2 separate regions of the Homo sapiens genome follow, and region 2 is linked to region 1. The links come from fine-mapping of genetic effects on gene expression. A gene starts in region 1. The other region holds a variant in brackets. All regions are shown on one strand. Distances are from middle to middle.

Region 1 (5,000 bases):
AATGCAAAAGCAATGCTTACAAAGTTTGTTTATTTATTTATTTATTTATTTATTTATTTTGAGACGGAGTCTCACTCTGTCGCCCAGGCTGGAGTGCAGTGGCTCGATCTCAGCTCACTGCAAGCTCCGCCTTCTGTGTTCACACCATTCTTCTGCCTCAGCCTCCCGAGTAGCTGGGACTACAGGTGCCCGCCACCACACCCGGCTAATTTTTTGTATTTTTAGTACAGAGGGGGTTTCACCGTGTTAGCCAGGATGGTCTCCATCTCCTGACCTCGTGATCTGCCCACCTCGGCCTCCTAAAGTGTTGGGATTACAGGCGTGAGCCACAGCGCCCAGCCCAAAATTTATTTTTTAACATCATTTTTTAAAAAGTCTGTGGTGCACTTAAAACAACTATCCCCCAATTCCTAGTAAGGTGTCAGTTTTCTGCAAGTACTTAATGGTATCTGGACTAAGTGTACATTTCAAAACACTCACATTATGAGTTAATGCATTTGCAACAAACTTCTGAGTGAAGTCAGATATTGCCTAGGTTGCAAATAAAAAATGCAAAGGAGTGAGGACTTAAGACCTATTGAGTACCCCTGGAACCCTTAATGGTTTTCTTTGCTTCCTTTTCTCTCTTAATAGACAATCATCCCACCTAGGACCATACTAATCAAACAATACACAAATGTTTCATGTTAAGGCTCAGAATCATAGACTCATATAATCAGGAGATTGGAAGGAAACACAAAAAGTAAGACTTTTCAAGACAACCTCATTCACACTGTTTACTTGAATTATTTACTCTTGTTTTATTATTAATTTTTATGCTGTTCAATTGACTACAATTCAAAACCCAGTGTATTCATACCATGTGCTAAGATATGCTCCTTCCTATATGTGTTCCTCTAAAGAACCATCTGGATCTTGTGGGGGATATTTTCCTTTGTGGTATCAAAGCCAGGAGCTCGTGGTTTTCCTTTATTTTTTAAGGGAACACTATCATGTAGCATCTGGGACCAGAAAGAAATCTTGATGTTATATATTTTACAGATATTTTCTTTTTGGATTTTTTTTCCTCTAAGAGAAAAGCTTTTGTTAATGTGTCATGTAAAAATACATTAACTAGTAACTTGTCAAGAAGTGCTAGATTCCATTCTTGTGCGGGTCCATTTATATATGTTCCTGAACAGCTAATATTTCATTTAGTTTCCAATTAAACTTGCTCAAATACATTTTTGAAGTGCATTGCTTAAAATTTACATTCAAGGCAAGAAAACGAGTTTGTCAGTAAATGTAGTAATTAAGGAAGTCCCAAGTCTGTATTTTTAAGATACTAGAGGTAATTGTAACTAATCACTTTAACTTAAAGAAATAGAATTGGAAATACCCCCCTCCCCCCGCCACCCCCTACCAAAACCATACCTTAGTCACTTTGGAATTATAACCGTCTTTTACGTCTATCAATATAAATGTATTGCATTTGGCATTCAAATTACTTTCAAAGGGATAAATTTCGAATTTTTTTTTTTCATTGTAGCTTCTGATCTTTAAATGTACTGAACAGGAGGATTTGGGGAGCTTGTCTTGTCTGATAGGTGTTAAGTATCTATGACGACAAATTTGAGCTGAAGCAATGTGCAATATGGACTAGTAATATCTTCACAAGACTATTTTGGAAATTCTCACGTTGATGTTATTAATGACGTGGGTTTATTAGCATTTGGGTAATTAAGAAAAAACAGTACTAGAATTTAAAAAAAAGAAAAAAAAAGGTAAGAAGGGCGAAACAGAGTTCTCCACTCCTCTCCCAACCCTCATTCCTTTGGAGGCTCGCGCCCTCTTGGAATAGCAGGTTCCTGCATGTGCCAGAAATCCGGTCCCGGCAAAGCTAGACGCTCTGCAATGACAGGCGTTCCCAGCTAGGGACTCCTGGCTGCTTGGAGCTTGAAAACACCTGGCGTGGTTCTCGAGGGCCCTAGAGGCTCCTGCTACGGACTGGTCGGCTCTGGGGTTGTAGGCAGAAGGCTCTAAGCGGTCGGAAGGGTTTCCTGTGTGTCAGCAACTTCACTTTGCCGAGATAGCTGGCGGAAGAGGGAAGGAGCGCTCGCGGGCCAATCGCCTGCCAGCAGCCACCTTGGAGCGCACCCCTCTCCCTCGCCGCCGACTCCGGTAGCAGCGTGCCGGCAGAGGCTGAACACACTCGGCCTCGGCGGAGACCTGCTCCCCAGAAGACGCCTCCTGCTTCCCACTGCGCCCTGGAGGACGCGGGCTGGCTGCTGGGCGAGCTCGGCGGAGGCACGCCCCTCGCCTCCCCGCGGAGTGCGGACTCGCCCCGGTGCCCAAACTCCGCCCACCCTCTAGGGAGCTCCGCTCTCCCGCCTAACCCCGGCACTCCGGACAGAGCTGGGCCTGGGGAAGGGGTTCCTGAACTACGCGGACGCCGAACGGGACGCGCTGCAGAAGCGCACGAGTCTGCGGCCACGCGCGCTCCGATGGCTGCCAGGAGCTGAGCTCAGGGTGGGCGGAGGAAGCGGTTAGACGCCCCGAAACTGAGCTGCACGTTTCTAAGGTAGGGAGGAGGAAGATGCCCCCAATTAAGTTGATCTTTGAGCCAAGGAGGCTGGGGAGCAGCCTCCCCAAGCTAGAGCCCTGCAGAGCGAGTTTCCCTTGACCTCGCTGCGCCTCTGGCGCGCTCTGCAGCGCGGACCCGCGGCCCCTCGGGAAAGCGCAGTCGGAAAGTTATCCGCGGCGGTTCCCTGCGCGCCCTGTTGTGTAAGCTCGGCGTTGCCAGCGGACGGAGAAGTTGCTGGCTTGCCCGATAGCCCAGTTCGGTGGCGGCCCGGGGCGGATTTCATGGCCCGCGGCGAACGCGGGGCCAGAGCTGGCGTGGGCGAGCCCCTGCGCGCCCCCTCCCGCGGGGATCCAGTTCGCCTGCTCCCTTCCGCTCGCTGGCTTTTCCGATGCTTGCTGCGCCCCTGGCCGCCGCTGCCCTCTCGCCGCCTCCTACCCCTCGGAGCCGCCGCCTAAGTCGAGGAGGAGAGAATGACCGAGGTGCTGTGGCCGGCTGTCCCCAACGGGACGGACGCTGCCTTCCTGGCCGGTCCGGGTTCGTCCTGGGGGAACAGCACGGTCGCCTCCACTGCCGCCGTCTCCTCGTCGTTCAAATGCGCCTTGACCAAGACGGGCTTCCAGTTTTACTACCTGCCGGCTGTCTACATCTTGGTATTCATCATCGGCTTCCTGGGCAACAGCGTGGCCATCTGGATGTTCGTCTTCCACATGAAGCCCTGGAGCGGCATCTCCGTGTACATGTTCAATTTGGCTCTGGCCGACTTCTTGTACGTGCTGACTCTGCCAGCCCTGATCTTCTACTACTTCAATAAAACAGACTGGATCTTCGGGGATGCCATGTGTAAACTGCAGAGGTTCATCTTTCATGTGAACCTCTATGGCAGCATCTTGTTTCTGACATGCATCAGTGCCCACCGGTACAGCGGTGTGGTGTACCCCCTCAAGTCCCTGGGCCGGCTCAAAAAGAAGAATGCGATCTGTATCAGCGTGCTGGTGTGGCTCATTGTGGTGGTGGCGATCTCCCCCATCCTCTTCTACTCAGGTACCGGGGTCCGCAAAAACAAAACCATCACCTGTTACGACACCACCTCAGACGAGTACCTGCGAAGTTATTTCATCTACAGCATGTGCACGACCGTGGCCATGTTCTGTGTCCCCTTGGTGCTGATTCTGGGCTGTTACGGATTAATTGTGAGAGCTTTGATTTACAAAGATCTGGACAACTCTCCTCTGAGGAGAAAATCGATTTACCTGGTAATCATTGTACTGACTGTTTTTGCTGTGTCTTACATCCCTTTCCATGTGATGAAAACGATGAACTTGAGGGCCCGGCTTGATTTTCAGACCCCAGCAATGTGTGCTTTCAATGACAGGGTTTATGCCACGTATCAGGTGACAAGAGGTCTAGCAAGTCTCAACAGTTGTGTGGACCCCATTCTCTATTTCTTGGCGGGAGATACTTTCAGAAGGAGACTCTCCCGAGCCACAAGGAAAGCTTCTAGAAGAAGTGAGGCAAATTTGCAATCCAAGAGTGAAGACATGACCCTCAATATTTTACCTGAGTTCAAGCAGAATGGAGATACAAGCCTGTGAAGGCACAAGAATCTCCAAACACCTCTCTGTTGTAATATGGTAGGATGCTTAACAGAATCAAGTACTTTTCCCCTCTTTAACTTTCTAGTTTAGAAAAAAATCAAACCAAGAAAATAGTGAGTTAAAAAAATAATAGAAGTAGAAATGCCCACATCCACACTTAGCTTGTTTGGGTTTGCTTTCACAGTCTCTCTTCCTTCTGACTAGAAGTATGTATAATAAAACAATACTACCTAGTTAAACATTTACTTTCTCTTTTGCCTTTAAAATGTGCAGGCTTTTCTGTTTAAAGTGTGTGTGCACATGAGTACTGGGGCTGTTTTTGATATTAGTAATTTCTCTAAGAAAACTAGCCCCCTGCAACTTGAGTTTGTGGTTTATCTAGCCTTTATTGTTTTTTTAAAATCCACAGTAGGAATAAAAAATCTATATTCTCAGAAATATCTAGCATGGTATATAACAAAACACTAAACTCATCAGTTCATCCGGCATCAGATCAATGGATCTCTGAGCGGGGTGTTTTTTTCAGTGTCTTATAAGCATAGATGATAGTTGACTGAGTTTCTTTAGGGCATTGAATAGACAAGTAAAGCTAATGAATTTAAAAGCCTGAAAAGTGATTGTTTTCCAGTTATTTCTGGAAAAGGTCTCATTATATATTGGGTGCTAAATGTTTGATGGGGAAAGCCTGCATATATTATCGTACTGGTAAAATGCATTCAAAATAATTAAAGTGCATGTATTTTCCTTGTAAACACCATGAGCTCTCTTAGACATCTTGTGATAAAGAGCATTTACTTGCCCCACTGCTGTGCAATGCCTTAGGACTTTGTTTGTGTTCCAGG
Region 2 (5,528 bases), 63 kb after region 1:
AAGCTAGACATTGAGAGCAGATTATTTGAAGAACTATGGTCTGGAGGTATGAGAAGAGAAAGGTGCTAGCTGGAGATTCTAAAGAAGTGTTTCTTTTTCTTTTTGAGATGGAAGAGACTTGAGTGGGTTCATAGGCAAGCAACAAGGAGCCAGGACTTAGAATGAGAGATGGAGATAGATGGTCTGGAATTTTTCTGAAGAGATAGGAAGAGATTAGACTAAGAACACAAGTGGTAGGGTTTACCACCAGTGAGTGAGGTCATGGCTTCCCTTCCTCTGAGCCAGGCGGTAGTGGAGACAGATACCTAAGTTTTTAGGTAAGAAGGGAAAAGTAAGGCTGATTCTATATGGCAGTTTCAATTTCCTCTATGAAGGATAAGGCTGGGAGGGAGGTGGTACTGAAATAGAAAGGGCTCAAATGCTTTTTGAAAAGGAGGAGATTTAAAATGGAGATGTGGTCCGAGAATGGAAAATTGAAGTTTAGGATTTCAGAGTTTCCTAATGATGAAAATGGAAGAGCACACAGTAAGTCAGTAGATAAAGAAAGCAGGAGGCATTCATTAATGGCTTGTTCACATGGCCACGAAGCCTCTTTAAGATTCTGAAATCAGCATGGAGGAATCAGCATGGAGGAAAACCTTGAGGCAGACCTAAAGCCCTCAGTGATTGTGAGATTGTGACCAAGCTGAAGAAGAAGAGTAAGACAGGGCTCAAACTGATGGTAGGAGTCTCAAACATAAGTTTCTGCTGGAGGATAAGCAAATAATTGCCTGCCAACAGCAGTGGGTAGCTGGGAGAGTACAATCCTCTTCTGCATACTTTGGAAAATTCAGACATTAAGAAGAAATGGCAAAGCTTCCTTGAGAGGATTGCAAAGAAAGTTGTGCTTTTTAGGCAGAGCCAGGTTTCAGTTAATAATGATTATGATAATAATAACAATGTTTTTTGACACTTACTTTCTAGGTACTGCTCCAAGTTTTTTTTGTTTGTTCATTTATGAGATGGAGTCTTGCTGTGTCGCCCAGGCTGGAGTGCAGTGGTGCGATCTCGCGTCACTGCAACCTCCGCCTCCTGGGTTCAAGCAAGTCTCCTGCCTCAGCCTCACAAACAGCTGGGACTACAGACATGTGCCACCTTGCTTTCCATTATACCTTCTGCAGTTTACTTAATTCATCCATATAAAAATACTTGGAGCATTTTTATATTTATTAACTTATTTATGGCAAGCAGGCAGAGAAGAGGGTCTGTGAAGAAGCTGAGAATGTAAAGGGGTTGTCTCTGATGAATTAAGTAAACTCCAGAAGGTATAATGGAAAGAATGACAAGGTTAGCAAGGGAAGGCAAGAGAAACAAGAGAGCATTGTGATAATTACAGTATTAGTTGTCTTGAGCACTTCACCATGGAAAGGGTTTTCCATGGCCAAATAGGGGAATCCTATTTTCTCACAAACACCACTGGTGTACTCCCAAGGAGAGTATATATATATATATATATATATATATATATATATATATATATATATATATATATATAAAACAAGGACCAAGAAAATAACTAAAATGATATCATTTACAACTAACTTAGTATAAAAATACTTGGAGCATTTTTATATTTATTAACTTATTTATGGCAAGCAGGCAGAGAACGTGGTCTTTGAAGAAGCTGAGAATGTAAAGCGATTGTCTCTGATGAATTAAGTCAACTCCAGAAGGTATAATGGAAAGAATGACAAGGTTAGCAATGGAAGGCAAGAGAAACAAGAGAGCATTGTGATAATTGCAATATTAGTTGTCCTGAGCACTTCACCATGGAAAGGGTTTTCCATGGCCAAATAGAGGAATCCTATTTTCTCACAAACGCCACTGGAGTACTCCCAAGGAGAGTATATGTAGATAACAAGGACCAAGAAAATAACTAAAATGACATCATTTATAACTAACTTAGGTTTCATCAGTAAATTACTAAAGCTTATGTGCAACCACTACTATTTGTGAAACAGGATGAATAAATGAGCCATAATGGCTCATTTTTGACTAAGGTTTAAAACCCAGACTAAAAGGAAACCAAGGCCATCTACTTAAGTCTTTCCCTTAGGCATACACTGTCTTCTCTTTAAAAATGTATTACAAACTTGGAGCCCATGAGCCAAATATGGGTTGTGTTTTAATCTGTAAACTATTTTTTATTTGAATTAATTCTCAAACTTAAGAAACAGGGGCTTTTGCATGTGAAAGAAAAGAAGGATAGAAAGAAGGAAAGAAGTTCAAATA[T/C]AGCAAAAATTGGCTATGTTGAGTAGGAGCTAGGGTGGCCAATTTTCATCTCATTTTTTCCTGGGAGTTTTCCAGTTTTAGCACTGAGAGTCCTACTTCCTGAAAAACCCCTCAGTTATAGGCAAACCAGGATGGTTGGACATCTTAGGAGCAGGTACTCTTTTTAGATTGACACATTGTGCTTTGGGGTTCACCAGAATTGCCACCAAGCCAGCATTAATTATCTGGCTAGCCCTTGTGGGTCTCTGAGTTTTCTAGATTTTGGCCTATCACTTGAGGGGCTTATTAACAACTAATTTAGTCCTCCCACTCCAAGGCAATACCCACCAGCATGGAAGTGACTGACCTACTTAAAGAATCTTAGGGGAACACAGAAAAAAAAAAGAAATCCACATAGGTGAATGCTTATAGAAGGTGAACACTCATAGGCCAACCACAAAGTTTGTCAGCTTCTATCCCATGCATTCTTTGTGCTCTAAGGCCCAAGCTCAATAATAGCTTACTTTGATTCCTTGGTTTCTTGTGAGTGGACCTAGTTAGACACTTAGCCTTGGTTTCCCTATTGTGGTTGGAATCTACTTATATATATCTGGACTGGTTGAGTCTGGTGGCAGTGAGAAAGAAAAAAACGAGAGACACAGATGCAATTAATTGGTTTTCCTTCGAAAATTTTCCTTCAAAATCTGAGTCTGAAGAATCAGCTTGAAGAGAGAGGACCCAGGGACTATGGTGCTGAGGCTGCCATAGATTGCAGCTCAGTATGTTGTTGCTGTTGGTGTTGGTCTGACTGCACAGTGCTCCAAGACCTGCCACAAAAGATGCCAGCCTTGGCTTATGAGCCTCAAAAAGAACAGAAAATATGATATGTTAATATTCCAGGAACACCCAGTCCTGGGTAGTCCAAGAAATTCATGGAAGCTACAAACTCTGTATCTTGACTGATCAGTGATTTCGTCCCAGTCAATTACCATTTTTAAAACATATAAATAAATACTGCACAATGACCTATTATATAGCAAATATCATATATCCAGAATCGTTTGATGTGAAAATCTGGGCTGTTATTAAATACATTAAATGTTACAGTATTTCAATTGAACAGAGGTCCTCCAGGGTTAAGAAATGTGTGATATTTTAAAGATACCTCAGAACTTTCTCTGAAGTATAAGTGTGAGTGCTACTTATTAATAATAAAGTCTTATCAATTTTATAAGTAATAATTCAGATTAAACAACAGTTGCTACAGGTAAAGTCAAAATATCAAGGGGAGTGGTAATGAAATATTAATAGTAGTGTGCAAATGTTGGCATGGCTAGGTAATTGCTGTAATACGCCCTCCTGCTTCCCTAATTCAAAGATCTTGAGAAAGCAGGCTTGGCTGTGTTTATTACCCATAGCCCTCCAGCTGTCAGCAAGTCTCCCTGGGCACTTCCAAGACACCTGCCACTTTGGCACCAATGCTGAAGCACTAGACATCGGTTTTTTTGTTAGGAAAGAAACTGAGATGCCATAGTTTTATAGAGGATTTATTAAGGCTAAGCAGGTGGTTTACTCTATCAAGGGAACACATGAGAGGATAATATAGGAAAACAGAATGAATAGTCAGACTTATTCCATAAAAAGGAAAATTTTTCTTTCTTTCTTTCTTTTTCTTTTTCTTTTCTTTTTTTTTTTTTTTTTTTTTGAGATGGAGCCTCACTCTGTCACACAGGCTGGAGTGCAGTGGTGCAATCTCAGCTCACTGCAACCTCCGCCTCCCAGGTTCAGGTGATTCTCCTACCTCAGCCTCCCAAGTAGCTGGGACTACAGGCAAGTACCACCATGCCCAGCTAATTTTTTGCATTTTTAATATAGATGGGGTTTCACCATGTTGGCTAGGTTGGTCTCGAACTCCTGACCTCAGGTGATTCACCCGCCTCGGCCTCCCAAAGTGCTGGGATTACAGGTGTAAGCCACTGCACCCAGCCCCATATCTTTCTTAAAGCAGATTATCACCTAAGCAAATGACAGGTAATATATTAATATTTGTTGAATTAATATATTAAATAAATTATTAAACCTTTGGTCAAGTTTTAAGTTTCTGGAACCAATAATGGCTTTAATAATTAAACTAGTTTGAGGGATGAAAAAGCTAGAGTTGGTAGAGCTGTCTTATTGGAACAATTAGTTTTCTGCTTTCTGTCATAACAAAAAGTCTAGTCACTAAATTTATTGTTCTTATAATATATTCAAAGTACACACTTTTCTCTTTAATATTAATTTGCTAATTTAATATCTAGTATTGGTTGTGCTTTCCTTCAGTATTTCCTCATTTCTTATAATGCCAATATTGTTAATGGGCGATGAAGACTACATGAAATAGCATCAAAATGACACTAACTAGTAGAATAAATAGAAAATGGAGTAGATGAGACTCAATAGAAATTACCTTAATAAATAGAATGTCACCTTAATAAATAGGAAGTAAATCTAGGAAGAATAGCACTGAGAAAAGAGTCTAGGATTAAGTGACTGGGAAAAATATAGTTTAATCAGTGGTACTAAAATATATCTGTCCAATCCATGTCCCATTCTTGCTGGCAGCAACAGGCCCTTCCACTTGCACTGGTGGCACTTAGGAGGTCTGGTGTCCCTTGGCCCTCCATCCAGTGGCAGAAGGTAACTCAGGGCCACTATCTTCAGGCCCACCATCCAATACAGAGAGCCATCCAGACTCAGTGATTTCCAGCTCTCCACCCAACAGCAGAATAAAACCTAGGCCAGGCATTTCCTGGCTCTCTACCCAATGACAGAAGGCAATCAAATCCTGTGTTTTCTTGCCCTCCACCTGGCAACAGAAAATGATCTAGGATAGCCTTCCACTCAACAGCAAAAGGCAACCCAGAACCCACAGCTCCAGGTACTCCTGGCCCTGCACCCAGTGATAGAAGGCATCCTAGACAGGTGCTTTTGTCTCCCAGTGGCACTGTTGAGATAGAGTAGAAAGCCTGCCAGAACTGGATGGCTACAGGATGGGCCAGGAGTATTGCTCTCCATCTCTGAGGCCAATATGGAAAGGAATCAGATTTTGGAGATTGATGAAAACTATTTTAAAGCAGCCACCATAAAATTGTTTCAATGAGAAATCAAAACTCCCTGGAAACAAATGAAAAATAAAAAATCTTGCAAAGAAATCAAATTAAATATATAAAAAAGACTCAAATGGAAATTATATAACTGAAAAATACAAAAAAACAAAAACAAAAATCTCACTGGAT

The links. PIP is the estimated chance that this variant, and not a neighbour inherited with it, causes the effect.
Region 2: its variant is the best candidate, but not a certain one, in a credible set for the expression of P2RY1 in whole blood (TOPMed, PIP 0.76).

The regions. Positions count from the first base shown.
Region 1 is chr3:152,832,750-152,837,749 of GRCh38, forward strand. It overlaps P2RY1 (purinergic receptor P2Y1), which reads left to right and starts at 2,382. Exons shown (of 1, transcript NM_002563.5): 1 at 2,382-5,000. The coding sequence starts at 3,034. The coding sequence ends at 4,155. RefSeq lists silencers at 2,289-2,338, 3,051-3,345 and an enhancer at 2,519-2,618.
Region 2 is chr3:152,895,808-152,901,335 of GRCh38, forward strand. No RefSeq gene overlaps it. Among named protein-coding and RNA genes, the nearest start is that of P2RY1, 63 kb to the left of the region's middle. The variant T/C (reference allele first, on the strand shown) is at 2,272.